2 separate regions of the Homo sapiens genome follow, and region 2 is linked to region 1. A link means that fine-mapping ties the variant in region 1 to the expression of a gene that starts in the linked region. Tissue or cell type: whole blood. Region 1 holds a variant in brackets; the other region holds the start of a gene. All regions are shown on one strand. Distances are between the middles of the regions.

Evidence for each region. PIP is the estimated chance that this variant, and not a neighbour inherited with it, causes the effect.
Region 2: ARSA starts here. The variant in region 1 is fine-mapped to the expression of ARSA in whole blood (TOPMed, PIP above 0.99).

What each region holds. Positions count from the first base shown.
Region 1 is chr22:50,546,788-50,554,887 of GRCh38, reverse strand. KLHDC7B (kelch domain containing 7B) reads right to left here. Exons shown (of 1, transcript NM_138433.5): 1 at 3,865-8,100. The coding sequence ends at 4,937. It overlaps SYCE3 (synaptonemal complex central element protein 3), which reads left to right. Exons shown (of 3, transcript NM_001123225.3): 3 at 3,486-3,776. The coding sequence ends at 3,643. KLHDC7B-DT (KLHDC7B divergent transcript) reads left to right here and starts at 5,941. Exons shown (of 4, transcript NR_199716.1): 1 at 5,941-5,992. RefSeq lists silencers at 5,794-5,953, 6,034-6,463. The variant G/A (reference allele first, on the strand shown) is at 3,575.
Region 2 is chr22:50,624,251-50,632,350 of GRCh38, reverse strand. ARSA (arylsulfatase A) reads left to right here and starts at 4,199. Exons shown (of 8, transcript NM_000487.6): 1 at 4,199-4,795; 2 at 4,945-5,185; 3 at 5,299-5,517; 4 at 5,591-5,760; 5 at 6,073-6,197; 6 at 6,288-6,415; 7 at 6,670-6,772; 8 at 6,887-8,100. The coding sequence starts at 4,572. The coding sequence ends at 7,206. It overlaps LOC124905149 (a long non-coding RNA gene), which reads right to left and starts at 857. Exons shown (of 2, transcript XR_007068161.1): 1 at 1-857. RefSeq lists a silencer at 4,115-4,304 and an enhancer at 5,239-6,021.

The DNA.
Region 1 (8,100 bases):
GCCTCCCAAAGTGCTGGGATTACAGGCGTAAACCACCGCGCCTGGCCTTGTATTTTTAATAGAGACAGGGTTTCACCATGTTGGCCAGGATAGTCTTGATCTCCTGACCTTGTGATCTGCCCGCCTCAGCCTCCCAAAGTCCTGGGATTACAGGTGTGAGCCACCGCGCCTGGCCTTTTTTTTTTTTTTTTTTTGAGACGGAGTCTTGCTCTGTCGTCCAGGCTTGAATGCAATGATGTGATCTCAGCTCACTGCAACCTCCGCCTCTCGGGTTCAAGTGATTCCCCTGCCTCAGCCTCCTGGGTAGGTGGGATTACAGGCGCCTGCCACCATGCCCAGCTAATTTTTGTATTTTTAGTAGAGACGAAGTTTCACCATTTTGGCCAGGCTGGTCTCAAACTCCTAACCTCAGGTGATCCACCTGCCTTGGCCTCCTGAAGTGCTGGGATTACACGCGTGAGCCACCACGCCCAGCCAGCAAACAGTTTTATGTAGTGAAAAATCTATCAATATTTTCCTTTCTGATTTATTGCCATTATTTTGACACCTAGAAAGTCTTTCCTCAATCTGAGATCAGTGAAATATTTAGTTGTATTTTCTTCTACTTTTCTCCGTATTCCTTTTTAACATTTAATCCTAACCCATCTGGCATGCCAAATGACCTACGCTGCGTATTGCTTTTTTTTTTTTTTTGAGACAGAGTCGCGCTCTGTTGCCCAGGCTGGAGTGCAGTGGCACAATCTCGGCTCACTGCAAGCTCTGCCTCCCGGGTTCACGCCATTCTCCTGCCTCAGCCTCCCGAGTAGCTGGGACTACAGGTGCCCGCCACCATGCATGGCTAATTTTTTTTGTATTTTTAGTAGAGATGGAGTTTCCCCGTGTTAGCCAGGATGGTCTCAATCTCTTGACCTCATAATCTGCCTGCCTTGGCCTCCCGAAGTGCTGGGATTACAGGAATGAGCCACCGCACCCAGCCGCATATTGCATTTTTATATAAATCTGCTACAGGCTGGGCACGGTGGCTCACACCTGTAAACCCAGCACTTTGGGAAGCCGAGGCAGGAGGATCACAAGGTCAGGAGTTTGAGACCAGCCTGGGCAATATGGTGAAACTCCATCTCTAATAAAAATACAAAAATTAGCTGGGCGTGTTGGTGGATGCCTGGAATCCCAGCTACTCAGGAGGCTGAGGCAGGAGAATCACTTGAACCCAGGAGACGGAACTTGCAGTGAGCCGAGATCATACCATTGCACTGCAGCCTGGGTGACGGAGCGAGACTCTCTCTTCTGTGATAGTCCCTGGGCATAGAGGGAGGGTGTTTGTATCGTTTTAGCAGCAGGGCATTTGCAGTGTAACAGATCCGGGCCCAGTGCGATGCCAAATGAGGGAGATTCATATCTTTGGTCATCTGCAGAATACCATGATTTTAGTTTCCTTGGAAGCAAAATGAGGGGAGATAAGTTTGACAATTATAAGAGTAATTTGTGCATTAGAACAGAAAAAGGAACCTATTCCATTAGGGCACCAACGAAAAATATGAGGAAAAGTTACAATCTGGTCCTCTCTAGAGGATTATTGTAGCCAAGAAACAATGATTTAATTTGCACTCAAAAAAACGTTATGGCTGGGCGCAGTGGCCTGTAATCCCAGCACTTTGGGATTTTATTTATTTATTTATTTATTTTGAGACAGGGTCATACTCTGTCACCCAAACTGGAGTGCAGTAGTGCAATCTTGGCTCACTGCAACCTCCACCTCCCAGGCTCAAGGGATCCTTTTTTTCATCTCAGCCTCCTGAGTAGTTGCAACTACAGGTGCACACCACCATGCCCAGCTAAATTTTGTATTTTCTGTAAAGACAGGGTTTCAACATGTTGCCCAGTCTGATCTCAAACTTCTGAGCTCAAGTGATCCACCCACCTCAGCCTCCCAAAGTGCTGGGATTATAGGTACCAGCCACCTTGCCCGGCCAGCCACCTTCTTGTATCCTCACATAGAGCCTCACATATCCTTGCATAGAGTGAGAGTGAGCTCTTGTGTCTCTTCTTTAAGGGGTGCTAATCCCATTCAGGAGGGTCTACCCTTAGGACCTAATCATCTCCAAAAGACCCGACCTCCTAATACCATCACGTCGGGGGTTAGGATTTCAACAGGTGAATGTGGGAGGGACACATTCAGTCCATAACATGTGTGCCAGGCAGTTTACATATATCACCCATTTAATTCTCACAGTAAGCCATGAGATTGGTAGGGTCTCCAAAGATGAGGAGACTGAGATTTATGTATATATAACCTCCACCTTCTGGGTTCAAGCGATTCTCCTGCCTCAGCCTCTCTAGTAGCTGGGACTACAGGCACCCACCACCACACCCGGCTAATTTTTATATTTTTAGTAGAGATGGGCCAGGAACACTGGCCATGTTGGCCAGGATGGTCTCAATCTCTTGATCTCGTGATCTACCCCCCTTGGCCTCCCAAAGTGCTGGGATTACAGGCGTGAGCCACCGCACCCGGCCGAGATTGATACATTGCAGACACTTGTTCCAGGTCACAGAGTCGTCAGGTGGGGAGCTGGGAGGCGTACTCTGCTCTGGCCCCAGGTCCCTGCTGCACCTGCTGTCCAGGTAGTCTGCGGCCTCCCTGCACCGGAACGATCTGGGATGCTTGTGAGGATTCCACAAAGAGGAATTTTAAGGGGATGTGTTTGCTATGTACAGTTGGTTGTCATGCAGAGGGGAGATGACCTTTGTTCTGTATAGTTGCAGAGGGCTGAACCACACCAGCCGGTGGACTATGCAGAGAAAAAGTTGGAGGTGGGATTTCTGCACACACTTCTTTGAGTTCACACAAGAAGCATGTGTTCACCTATAGGCCCAGGGAATGCTACCTTCGAGTTGCTGTCAGAGGGAAAGAGCAAGAGAGCCCATCAGTGCATTGGTAGATGGTCAAGGACACCTTCCCAAGAGGAGAAGCCCCAGGCCTGGGCCTCAACGAAAGCATAGAGGTGCCCAGGTGGAGGTGGGCAGGCATCCCAGGCCACTGAACATAAGGTGACATGAGGTTTGGGTCTTGCAGGACTGGAAACAATCAACTCTACCTGAGTGTGTGAGCTTGGGTGGATGACTCCTTAGGGGTCACCTGCAGCCATTGGCTGTGAACTGCTTGTAGGTAAGGAGCTGCGGTTTGCTCTAATTCTCCTCACATTTCGTATCAGACCAGCCTCTAGTTTTTTACATCATGTCTGGTGTATCCAGAAGTTATGCCTTGCATGAGACTAGGAAGCGTCACTATGGATGTTTGTAGGGAGTTTTTATGAGCCTGTAACAAGTAGCCTACCAGCTGTCTCTCCCTAGAGTAATTGGGTGCCTCAGCAGGATCTGGGCCTCCAGATGCTGAGCCCAGCTGGAGGCATCTGACCCTTCTGGGGCACCCCAGAGCTGCAGCCCCTCCCTGTGGCCTGACCAGTCCTGTCTGCTTGTTGCAGTGCAGGCGACCTGGATGGCCTATGACATGGTGGTGATGCGCACCAACCCTACGCTGGCCGAGTCCATGCGTCGGCTGGAGGATGCCTTC[G/A]TCAACTGCAAGGAGGAGATGGAGAAGAACTGGCAAGAGCTGCTGCATGAGACCAAGCAAAGGCTGTAGGCCCCACTGGCCCACCACAGCTGCCATGCCACCCTCTGCCCGTATGAAGAGGTCACTGGGGGATGGAGCTGGCACCCACATGAATAGCTGTATGCACTGTACTTGTTTCTTAATAAACTTATTTTTAAGCACAGCCCGAGGACCTCTTCTCTCCTGTGCCATGATCCACCCAGCTGCATATCAAACCTTGTGAACAAAACACAACAAGTGCAAGCTGCAGGTGCTTTCGGTGAATTAAAATGTATTTGGTGCCAGTGGTGCTGAACATAGAATAAAAAACAGAAAAAGGGCCCAGACAGGGACATCCAGGCTGGAGGTTGGAGTGGAGCACAGTCAGATGTATTCACTTTTCTAGCATGGGTTTCAAAGTGCGTAAGGGGAGAAAACGCATCATGGATTGTGCTGTGCATCCTGGACACCGTGCGAGGTGCTCATAGCTGTGATCTTGTCTCCCACAACTCTCTTGGGTGACAGACGTCCACTGTCCACATTTTATAGACAAGGAGAAAGGGAAGTCAAATGTCTCGTCCAAGTCTACACAGCTAAAAAGGGGCAGAACTAGGGTGACGCTCAGGCCTCATTTAGAGATCGGGGGTTGGCGAGAAGTGGGGTGGGCTTCTGGAGGGGCTGGGAGAGCCCCACAAGGCTGCAGAGGGTGGTGAGCCCGGAGTGGGCCTGGCCTGGTGTGGGCTGGGGGTATGGGCAGGAGCTGCAGACAGCAGGGCTGCACCAGCGGACCAGTTTCAGAGGCAAGGGTTCTAGGCCCTTGAGAATCCACAGTGCCAAACAGACCCAGATAGCTACGGGGTTGGTACCTGGGGAGGCCTTAGGACAGGCAGAAAGTCCCAGAGGCGAGGGCGTTGCCTGGGGACGTTTTTGCTCCCTGTCCTGCTGACAGAGCATAGGAAGTGTGAATGTTTTCTACCCCCTCCTCTCTCGGCTCAGCAGAGCTCCAGCGAGCCAAGTCCTTGTCTGTGGAGACGCATCAGTCCCTGGCTCTAGGGAATAGGGAGTCCCACAGACAGGGGGGTGTCAGCAAGCTGAGAGGGTCTGTAAGTAGGTACGGAATTGAGTCAGGAAACAGTCTGGGTGTGGAGTGAGGGGCAGAAAGAGGCTGAGGGAGTCTGGGCTTCAAAATAATCGACAACCTTTAAAGCAGAAGGGGAAAGTTGTCCAGAAACAAGAGCAGGAAGTTCCGATCCCAGCCCCTTCCCTGAGCCCCGGCCTCTCAGGCCCATCCCAGGAGGGTCTCCCTGGAGAGCAGCGAAGCAGCTTTGGTTCTCTGCCTGCCACTCAGAGTGAGGTCTGCAGCCGGTCCTCAGGGGGCAGAGTCAGGATGAATGGACTGAGGACCCCGGTGCTCCCCAAGGGGAAGGGCTGCAGCTCCTTGGCCTGGAACTGGGCAGTCCCCCCAGAGACCGTGAAGGTGGCAGTGACCTGGGGGTTGAGGCAGTAAATGGTGTTGCCCAGGGTGGTGCAGTGCAGTGGGGCGGGGGCGGGCAGGGGCAGGGAGGCAGCCCTGCTCCAGGAGCCGGTCACTGTGTTGTAGCGCATCACGGCGGCGCCCACGCCCCGCAGCAGGTCGAAGCGGTACAGGAAGCCCCCCAGTGCCACGATGTCGCTGGAACGCCGGTGGCTGGCACTGTATGGGCACTCGTCCCAAGCATCCTTCACGGGGCTGTACCTGAGCAGGCGGTAGAAGAGGTGACCCCCGGTGACGTAGATGTCCCCACGGCAGGCCACAGCCTCGTGGGCCACAGGGAAGGTGCCTGCGGGGAGTGGCGCGCGTGGGGTCCAGGCGTCTGTTCGCGGGTCGTAGCACTCCATGCTGTACAGGCATTCGCCACCGATGGCATAGAGCAGCCCGTCCAGGGCCACCAGCTTGAGCTGGGCTCGGGCCTGCTGCATGGGCCGAACCTGGCTCCAGATGTTGGTCAGAGGGTTGTAGCAGAAGACCTCGTTGGAGCAGACGGCCTTGGCACCGGAGCCACGGATGCCCCCCGCCAGAAACAGGTAGTTGTGCATGGTGCAGAGACCGCAGCCCCGAAGCGGGGCCTCCTCGGGCACCTGGGTCAGGGGCCGCCAGGTGTTCTCCCGGGGGTTGAACACATGCAGGTGCGCAGGTAGAGGCAGGGACACAGGGGCCGCCGCAGGAGGCTCCTCGCCACGAGGGCCCCTGGGGAGCCCTGAGCGGCCCCCCTGGTAGAGGCTGGGCAGTACGAGGACGCCCAGCACCGCCCGGCCCCGGCCGGTCCGCAGGCTGAGGATGCGCTCGCGGTCGGCCGCGCTCAGCCGGCGGTAGAGGCACGGGTCTCCCAGCACTCGCAGCAGGTTGTCGCTCATCAGCGCGTAGGTCTCCTGCGCCAGGCCGGGCTCTCCGTGCTGCTGGGCAAAGGCCAGCACGTCCAGGCAACTGCCCAGGTCCAGCCGCCGCCGCAGGGCTGCCGCCGTGGCGGGCTCCAGGGCCCGGGAGCTGGGCTTCCGGGGCCCCTCCACCACCCCCCAACCCCCGGGCCTCTGCAGAAACACCATGAGCTTCCGGGCCTCCTCCTGCTTTTCCGTGAGCGCCCCGCTGCGGCCGGCAGGGCTGCCCCCCTCCCCCGGCGCCTCCCCTTGAGGGTCCCCCGAGGCGGCCGGCCTGACCTCCTGCTCCGAGCTCGGGGCGATTTCGCACCTGCTGCGTTTCCGTAGCTGGGGTACCGGCTGTGAGCGCCTCGCAGAGGAGGAGGCCGCGGGGCCAGGCGGCCTCTGCGCGGGGGGCTGTGCGGGGCCCCTGGGCATCGCGGCTTGGGGCAGCGGGTCTAGACTTTTCTCCCTGGTTCCCTCTCCTCTTAGGCCTGGGGGAGGGTCTGGGCTGGGCGATCCGTTGGTCTCGGAGCTTCTTGGCTGTGGCTGACCTCCAGCCTCAACCAGGCCCCCTGTACCTGTCCCTATGACTGTCCCCACTGAAGAAGAGGGGCCGTGTCTGTCCTCAGAGTGTGTGGAAGTGCTGGGACCCACGGGGCTCCCGGGAACCGCCCTCGGGACACTCCCTTGGGGCCTGTCTTGCCTGGGGAAGGGGTGGCTTCTAAGAACCATGGCAATAAGGTTTCCCCAGCTGGCTGAGACCTGCCCCTCCTGGTAGCGCCTGGGGAGAGCCACACTCTCCTGAGGCTTTGACCCGTCAGCTGGGGCAGGGGATGCGGCTGGGGTTGGGGTTGGGGCTGAGGTGGGGGCTGGGGCAGGGGATGCGGCTGGGGTTGGGGCTGGAGTTGGAGCTGGGCTTAGGGCTGGGGTTGGGACTGGGGTTAGGGCTGGGGATGCGGCTGGGGTTAGGGCTGGAGTTGGAGCTGGGCTTAGGGCTGGGGTTGGGACTGGGGTTAGGGCTGGGGATGGGGGTGTGAGGGTTGGGACTGGGACTGGGGCTGGGGCTGGAGTTGCGGCTGCAGCTGGACTTGGGGCTGGGGCTGGGGTTGAAGTTGGAGCTGAGGTTGGAGCTGGGGCTGGGGCTGAGGTGGGGGATGAGGTTGAGGTGGTGGCTGAGGTTGGTGCTGAGCTGGGGGATGAAGCCAGGGCTGGGGCTAGGACTGAGGCTGGAGCTGAAGTTAAGACTTGGGCTGAGGCTGAACTTGGGGCTGGCGCCGCTCTGAGATTTTCGCCCACGGAAGGATCCTGGGTAACCTCCAGGGGCAAAAAGTCTGAAGGAGAGGGGAGAGTCAGGGCTTCAGGTGGGAACCCCGGGCCGGGAGCTGCGGGCGGGGAGGCGGAGCGCGGGCGAGGCTCACGGCTCCGGGAGGGCGCGCGGCTGTGGCCGGCTGCAGCCGGCTTTGCTTGCTCCGGGGGCCGGGTGGGCCCCAGGTCAGCGGCAGGACTGTTATCTCGGGAGCTGTCAGCCCCGGCCTCGCCGGCATCGTAGGCCCCTGTGGCACCCGGCCCTTGGGACGAGAGTGGGCGACCTTGAGGCGGACTCTCTAGCCAGGGGCGCGTGGAGTCTGGGGCTGGGCCAAAGCTCCGGGTGCCCGGGACCTCCCTGCTGACCCAGGGCCAGCCTCCTCCGGGGGCAGGGACCCCCGAGGCCTCCCTGCTCCAGCCACCCTTGGCCCCAGAGCCTTCCGTCTGAGACCCAGGCTGCAGGGCGCGGGGAGCGGGCAGCGCCGGGAGTGCGGGCTCCTGGGCGAGTGGGGGTCCTGTGGGGAGGCCGCGCGCGTGGGCGTCCAGGGCGGCGGCCCCGTCCACCGCGTCCCACACGCTCCCCGCGGCGCCCAGGCGGAGCGGGTCCAGTTTCCGGGGGCGGCGGGCTCTGTCTCCCGAGCCAGCGTCCATCCGCCGCCGCCGGCCCCGGCCTCTCCCCATCGAGCCCGAGGGCCCCGCGCCCGCCTGCCAGGGGCCAGTGTCCTGTTGCCCCGCGGGGCCTGCGGCCTGGCGAGAGGACGCCCTGACACCACCTGTCTCCGCCTCCGCTTCGCTGCCAGGGCTCC
Region 2 (8,100 bases), 77 kb before region 1:
TTTTTTTAATTTAGGGATCTTTCTAATGTAAAGGATTCATCTTTTGGCTATTGACAATCAGAATTTCCAATGATGTATTTATTCCAATAGCAACTCAATCCAAGAAGCCCCTTCATGGAAAGCCCAAAAGATTATTTTCCAGGTTTAGAGAGGGCATAGAAGAGGAGGTTCCAATGATGCCCCCAAAATTCACTCCCAGGAATAGGCAAAGACAGCAAAAGACTCTTGTTCCCAGAGACAGTTAAGGAACGTGTTTGTACATACAGTGCCTCCAGTAACACACAATCTGTCAGGGGCTGCCAGTCACAGACCCATTAACCTGTAACACAGGGTAGGCCTGTTGGGATTGGGCTTTCTGAGGACTGACCAGGCAACAAACATTGGGATGACAAAAGCCCCTTATGGATGGGCCTGAGGAGAGCAAAAACCACCTGGCGACCATCAAACATCAAACAGGCCCTCCGAGGCAAAACTCCTTATCTGGGGAAAATCAAAAGTAACTAAACCTCCCTATTATCTAAAGCAGGCATCTGGTTCCAGATTTCTTCCCCCAAAAAACGTGTAAGTAACTATAATTTCTATGTGTCTCCAGAATACCATGACGAAACTCACTGTACAACCGTCGCTGACATTAAGGCACCAAAATTACTATAAATGTAATCATTTATCATGACTTACGTGGCTAATATGGTCCAAATTACTGTTAAGCCTCCACTTTAAGGCCTATAAATGCCCTTAAGGAGAAATCCACCCGGCGTACTCAGTCCTCTTGCTGAGGCACCTCATTGCACTCTTCTGCAGCATTCTAATAAACTTTCTTTCTTTTCTTTTTTTTTCTTTTTTTTTTTTTTGAGATGGAGTTTCACTCTTGTTGCCCAGGCTGGAGTGCAATGGTATGATCTCAGCTCACCACAACCTCCATCTCCCAGGTTCAAGCGATTCTCCTGCCTCAGCCTCCCAAGTAGCTGGGAATACAGGCTCCCGACACCATGCCCAGCTAATTTTTTGTATTTTTAGTAGAGATGGGGTTTCATCATGTTGGCCAGGCTGGTCTTGAACTCCTGCCCTCAGGTGATCCACCTGCCTCAGCATCCCAAAGTGCTGGGATTACAGGCGTGAGCCACCGTGCCCGGCAAACTTTCTTTTTTCTTTTTTTTTTTGAGACAGTCTTGCTCTGTCTCAGCTCACTGCAACCTCCGCCTCCCAGGTTCAAGCAATTCTCCTGCCTCAGCCTTCCAAGTAGCTGGGATTACAGCCACGCACCACCACACCTGGCTAAGTTTTATACTTTCAGTAGAGACAGGGTTTCTCCATGTTGGCCAGGCTGGTCTCAAACTCCTGACCTCAGGTGATCCACCCACCTTGGACTTCCAAAGTGCTGAGAGTACAAGCATGAGCCACTATGCCCGGCCAAACTTTCCTTTTTCAAACCTATTGTCGGTAAACTCTTTTTACCAACCCGCAAGTTGACCACCACTCCCAGTGCCGGGGCTCTGACAGCTCGCCTGGCAGGGACTTCTTAAGACAAACTAAAAGCTTGACACATTCAGAACAAAAACGGTGCTGCTTAAAATATTAAATGTCTTGGGTTCCCAACCATTTTCAGACTGACCACAAAATGTGACCTGCGAGTCACTACCTCGGATTGGCAGAGGCCAAGAGAGTGCTCCTGAGGTAGGAGGTGGGACTTAGTTGACCCAGTTGAGGATTGGCTAAAACAGGGTTGGGGCAATAGCAGCTTTCAGTCAGATATGCCCGCCACTGTGCCATGTCAGTTTACCATTGCCATGGCAACACCCAGGAGTTGCCACCCCTTTCCATGGCAATGACCCAATGATGACTACTCCTTCCCTAGAAACTTCTGCATAAACCATCCTTTAATCTACATGCAATCAAAAGTGCGTATAAATGTGACTGCAAAACTGCCCTGAGCTGCTACTCTCAGCCTACGGGGTGGCCCTGCTCTGCAGGAGCAGTCACAGAGCTCTAACGCCACCTGTTCAATAAAGCTGTTTTCTTCTACCTCTGGCTTGTCTTTGAATTCTTTCCTGGGCAAAGCCAAAACCCTCACTGGCTAAGCTCCACTCTGGGGTCTGCCTGGCCTGCATCATTCCCACTCGCTCACAACTCAAGCTTTCAAGGACATCAAAAGAGAGGAGAATCTCATCCAGTTTTCAGTTCAGGGACCCACAGCAAAGTCTGTCTAACTAGACGCATCCGATCAGAGCTGCAAAACTGACTAGCCTGCAGGACGGCCCCAAGACGGGGTTTACAGGGGTTTTAGGCCTGTGTTCTACCCTCTTTATGACAGAAAAACACAGAAAGACAAGAATGAAAGACGACTATTTCTGGGGAAAAAAAGCAATCAAACAATATGAATACAAAACTAATCACATAAATACATTTCTCTCATTAAAACTTTGAAGAGGAAAACAAGGTAAACAGACATTTTTACCGTCGGCTTGACAAGATTCCAGAGAGGCCGGGAGCCTGGCTGCTAAGACCTTCTTACCCTTCTTTCTGCCAGCTTGTCGGCTCCTGGGTTCCCCTGACGGAGGCTCCCAGGAGAGTGACTTTAGTTATCCTACCGACTGCACCAAAACTGTAGGAGCCTAGAGAAAAACTTTTCTGCATTCTGAGTTCACAGAAAATCAACTGACAAAAGCCAGGTTAGTAAGAAAAAAGGCATACAGATTTATTCATGCACACAGGGAGAACCAGAGTGATGACCCCAACCTCCCAATGGGGTTCGGAAGCTTATATACCATCTTGAGGTTACAGAAAGAACATGGGCTCAAAGTATGGCCACAGTTTATGGTGGAAAATCAGGTGACCAGTGGCAAGACCGGTTACAGGAGGGAGAGCAGAGGAGGCCTGGCTAGCAAAGGTGGCCTTGTTCTACAGATGAAACCTCACAGGTAGCAGCCCTGAGAGAGAACAGATGGTGAATGTTCCCTTCAGGCCTTTAAAGGCGTCAGACTGTTACTCTTCCCAGATCAGGCAAGGAGGGCCTCAGAGGAGGCCTGGCCGCATCAGTGTAGATTCTCTCCACAGATGCAAATCTCCCCCACAAAAGACAGCTTTTCAGCTATTCTTCTATTTCCAGTCCTTCTGAGTAACTGTCTTGAACCGTGTCAAGGAAATATATTTGGAGGTGACATATTGTGTTTTCCTTCAAGATCAAAAAGGTTAAGTCCAAGGCTGCCCAACGAGGGAGCGAGGACCCAATCACGTTGTCCTCAGATGAGTTTTTCCCCAGCAGCGTAACCCTGCAACAGGCCAGACTGGACCCCAGACACACATTCCACACCACACCACGCCTCCACCACCACACGCACACAACAGACACACCCTAAACACCAGACACACACACACACCTCAACCACCGCAAACACACATACGCCACACCTCTAACACCACACACACCCAACACCACACACATACGTGCCTCAAACACTACACACACCTCAACCACCATACACCTCAACCACACACACCCCTCAAACACCAAACACACCCCTCAACCACACACACACACCCCTCAAACACCACACACCCACCTCAAACACCACACACACATATCCCTCAAACACTACAAAAACACACACACACACCTCAAACACCACACATGCACACACACCTGAAACACCACACACCTGCCTCAAACACTCCACACACACCACACACAGACACGTACACAGCCCCCCGCACCCAGCCACAGCTTACACGCACACAGACACGCGTACGCAGGAGAAAGGGTGTCAAAGCTTTTGCTAGTCGTGAAGGAAGAGCCCGCAGTCCATGGGGCTGCACGGTTTTCCCTGCCATTTGCTCATTCACCGGGTGCCCATAACGCTCCGCGCTCAGGTCTCTTACAGGAGGGCCCGAGTCTCCCAGTACCGGAGGTCTGGGGGCGCACGAGCCGCTCCTCCTCTGGAGAAGCTCCGGACCGAGAGGACACCGGACACTGCGCAGCGCCGAGCCCCGCGCGCAGCCCGGGACGCCTCAGCCAGGGCCGACCGCGCAGAGGAAGCTCCCAGAGCCCGTTTCAAGACCGCAGCCAACAGCCTCAGGCGCACACGGCGGCCTCGGAGCGAGCACGCGCAGCAACGCCCCTCGCCCCGGCCCGCCCCCGGCCCCGCCCCCGGCCCCGCCCCCGGCCCCGCCCCGCAAGGGTCACAGGTCACGGGGCGGGGCCGAGGCGGAAGCGCCCGCAGCCCGGTACCGGCTCCTCCTGGGCTCCCTCTAGCGCCTTCCCCCCGGCCCGACTCCGCTGGTCAGCGCCAAGTGACTTACGCCCCCGACCCTGAGCCCGGACCGCTAGGCGAGGAGGATCAGATCTCCGCTCGAGAATCTGAAGGTGCCCTGGTCCTGGAGGAGTTCCGTCCCAGCCCGCGGTCTCCCGGTACTGTCGGGCCCCGGCCCTCTGGAGCTTCAGGAGGCGGCCGTCAGGGTCGGGGAGTATTTGGGTCCGGGGTCTCAGGGAAGGGCGGCGCCTGGGTCTGCGGTATCGGAAAGAGCCTGCTGGAGCCAAGTAGCCCTCCCTCTCTTGGGACAGACCCCTCGGTCCCATGTCCATGGGGGCACCGCGGTCCCTCCTCCTGGCCCTGGCTGCTGGCCTGGCCGTTGCCCGTCCGCCCAACATCGTGCTGATCTTTGCCGACGACCTCGGCTATGGGGACCTGGGCTGCTATGGGCACCCCAGCTCTACCACTCCCAACCTGGACCAGCTGGCGGCGGGAGGGCTGCGGTTCACAGACTTCTACGTGCCTGTGTCTCTGTGCACACCCTCTAGGTAAAGAGGGGGCCGCGCCTCTTCCCCGCCCCGACCCTCCATCCCTTTCCTCCCAATGGATTGCAGGGGGGCGGGAAAAACGTCTGTCTCTCTCTCTAGGGAAGGCCACATTTCTGTCTGTCTCAGGGACTCTGTGACTTGTCCCGCAGGGCCGCCCTCCTGACCGGCCGGCTCCCGGTTCGGATGGGCATGTACCCTGGCGTCCTGGTGCCCAGCTCCCGGGGGGGCCTGCCCCTGGAGGAGGTGACCGTGGCCGAAGTCCTGGCTGCCCGAGGCTACCTCACAGGAATGGCCGGCAAGTGGCACCTTGGGGTGGGGCCTGAGGGGGCCTTCCTGCCCCCCCATCAGGGCTTCCATCGATTTCTAGGCATCCCGTACTCCCACGACCAGGTAGGAACCACCCGGGCCCTCAGCCACCCTCCCACCTCCCAAAGTCCCCCAGCCCTTGATGCTCCCGCAGCCCCACCTGCCAGCCCAGCCCTCACGGCAGCTGCCCGCCTCAGGGCCCCTGCCAGAACCTGACCTGCTTCCCGCCGGCCACTCCTTGCGACGGTGGCTGTGACCAGGGCCTGGTCCCCATCCCACTGTTGGCCAACCTGTCCGTGGAGGCGCAGCCCCCCTGGCTGCCCGGACTAGAGGCCCGCTACATGGCTTTCGCCCATGACCTCATGGCCGACGCCCAGCGCCAGGATCGCCCCTTCTTCCTGTACTATGCCTCTCACGTAAGTGATCTTGGCCCAACCCCCTGGCTGCCCGTGACCCCTACCCAGTGCTAACTCCAGTCTTTGCCCCCAGCACACCCACTACCCTCAGTTCAGTGGGCAGAGCTTTGCAGAGCGTTCAGGCCGCGGGCCATTTGGGGACTCCCTGATGGAGCTGGATGCAGCTGTGGGGACCCTGATGACAGCCATAGGGGACCTGGGGCTGCTTGAAGAGACGCTGGTCATCTTCACTGCAGACAATGGGTATGCCAGCAGGGCAGCTGGGTGCTCCGGCCCTGTCACGGGCCAGGGCCCTGGAGGCCTTGCAGTTCAGCTGCTTGCCAAGAACATAGTGGGTGAGGGGGTGCCAGGAGATGCTGGCCACGTTGCAGGGGCCCAAGGTGTAGTCAGGAGACACAGTGCACAGAGAGCTGGTCTTGGTAGGCCTGGGAGGTGCCGGGCTCATGCTGGGCACCTCCGGGCAAGCTTTGTGACTTAGAGGTGTGGGGCCACTGGTCACCCTCGGTGGCTCAGAGGCTGTGGCTCCATGGCTCATGAGCGCCTCCTGTGTCCCAGACCTGAGACCATGCGTATGTCCCGAGGCGGCTGCTCCGGTCTCTTGCGGTGTGGAAAGGGAACGACCTACGAGGGCGGTGTCCGAGAGCCTGCCTTGGCCTTCTGGCCAGGTCATATCGCTCCCGGTCAGTCCGCAGGCCCTCTCCTTGGAACCCTGGCCCCACCACCCCAACCTTGATGGCGAACTGAGTGACTGACCAGCCTCCTGCCCCCAGGCGTGACCCACGAGCTGGCCAGCTCCCTGGACCTGCTGCCTACCCTGGCAGCCCTGGCTGGGGCCCCACTGCCCAATGTCACCTTGGATGGCTTTGACCTCAGCCCCCTGCTGCTGGGCACAGGCAAGGTAGGGCCGGTGACCCCTGATCCCAGATCCTTGGCCCCTGTCCTGGCCTTCCCCTGGGGTGAGTGTGGGCAGTGCCTGAGAGTCTGTGCCTCAGTGCCTCCTGCACTGAGTGGCATCCAAGTGGCGCCACCTCTCAGGTTCCTGGGTGGGCAAGAAGCGGTGCACGTCCAGGGCCTCCCACCAGGGCTGGCAGCCCCAGGTATGTGCAGTGCTTGGGGCCTGCCCCGCCCCGTGACCCCTGACTCTGCCCCCAGAGCCCTCGGCAGTCTCTCTTCTTCTACCCGTCCTACCCAGACGAGGTCCGTGGGGTTTTTGCTGTGCGGACTGGAAAGTACAAGGCTCACTTCTTCACCCAGGGTAACCCCTCCCCGTGGATCCCTCCCCCCGACCTGCTGACCCCTCCCCGGAGCCCTAGATCCCTGGCCCCTCCTCTCGCCCTTGCCCTGTGCACAGAATTGGCCCCCTCCCCAGGCTCTGCCCACAGTGATACCACTGCAGACCCTGCCTGCCACGCCTCCAGCTCTCTGACTGCTCATGAGCCCCCGCTGCTCTATGACCTGTCCAAGGACCCTGGTGAGAACTACAACCTGCTGGGGGGTGTGGCCGGGGCCACCCCAGAGGTGCTGCAAGCCCTGAAACAGCTTCAGCTGCTCAAGGCCCAGTTAGACGCAGCTGTGACCTTCGGCCCCAGCCAGGTGGCCCGGGGCGAGGACCCCGCCCTGCAGATCTGCTGTCATCCTGGCTGCACCCCCCGCCCAGCTTGCTGCCATTGCCCAGATCCCCATGCCTGAGGGCCCCTCGGCTGGCCTGGGCATGTGATGGCTCCTCACTGGGAGCCTGTGGGGGAGGCTCAGGTGTCTGGAGGGGGTTTGTGCCTGATAACGTAATAACACCAGTGGAGACTTGCAGATGTGACAATTCGTCCAATCCTGGGGTAATGCTGTGTGCTGGTGCCGGTCCCCTGTGGTACGAATGAGGAAACTGAGGTGCAGAGAGGTTCAGGACTTGTACAAGATCACCCAGCCAGAAAGAGGTTGGGCTGGGATTTGAACCCTGGTGTCGTGGCTCTGGAAGCTGCCCTGGCGCCTTGGTGATCTGCGTGGGTCAGTGCACACAGGCACACGTCAGCCTCAAGGACATGGGCACATCTGTTCACAGGAGCAGCGCCACGTGCCTTTGAGTGCCAGGAACGGGGTGGGAGGGTGGGAGGGTGTGAGGGCCAGAAGACTCAGAAGATGCAAAGTGCCTGAGAGAGACGGGATATTCCCCCAGAAGAAGCATTCTTAGAGACACAGGCACTGGACCTCCTTGGTTCTTATAAGAAACCTGTCTGAAGCTGGGTGATGAGTTGCACACTCCAGGTGGGGCTAAGGGGCCTGGAGCCCCTGCTGGCTCCTAGGAAGGCACAGCAGCAGGCCCTGAGACGGCTCCTCTGGGGCCCCTCCACCCTCCCAGGCCTCTGCATTTCACCTGTGCCCACACTTCTGTCTCCTGCCTTCACCTTTTGACCCACTACTAACGATTCTCCACCCAGCAGACAAAGTGATCTCTTAAAAATATCTGTTGGCTGGGCACGGTGGCTCACGCCTGTAATCCCAGCACTTTAGGAAGCCGAGGCGGGTGGATCACCTGAGGTCGGGAGTTCGAGACCAGCCTGACCAACATGGAGAAACCCCATCTCTACT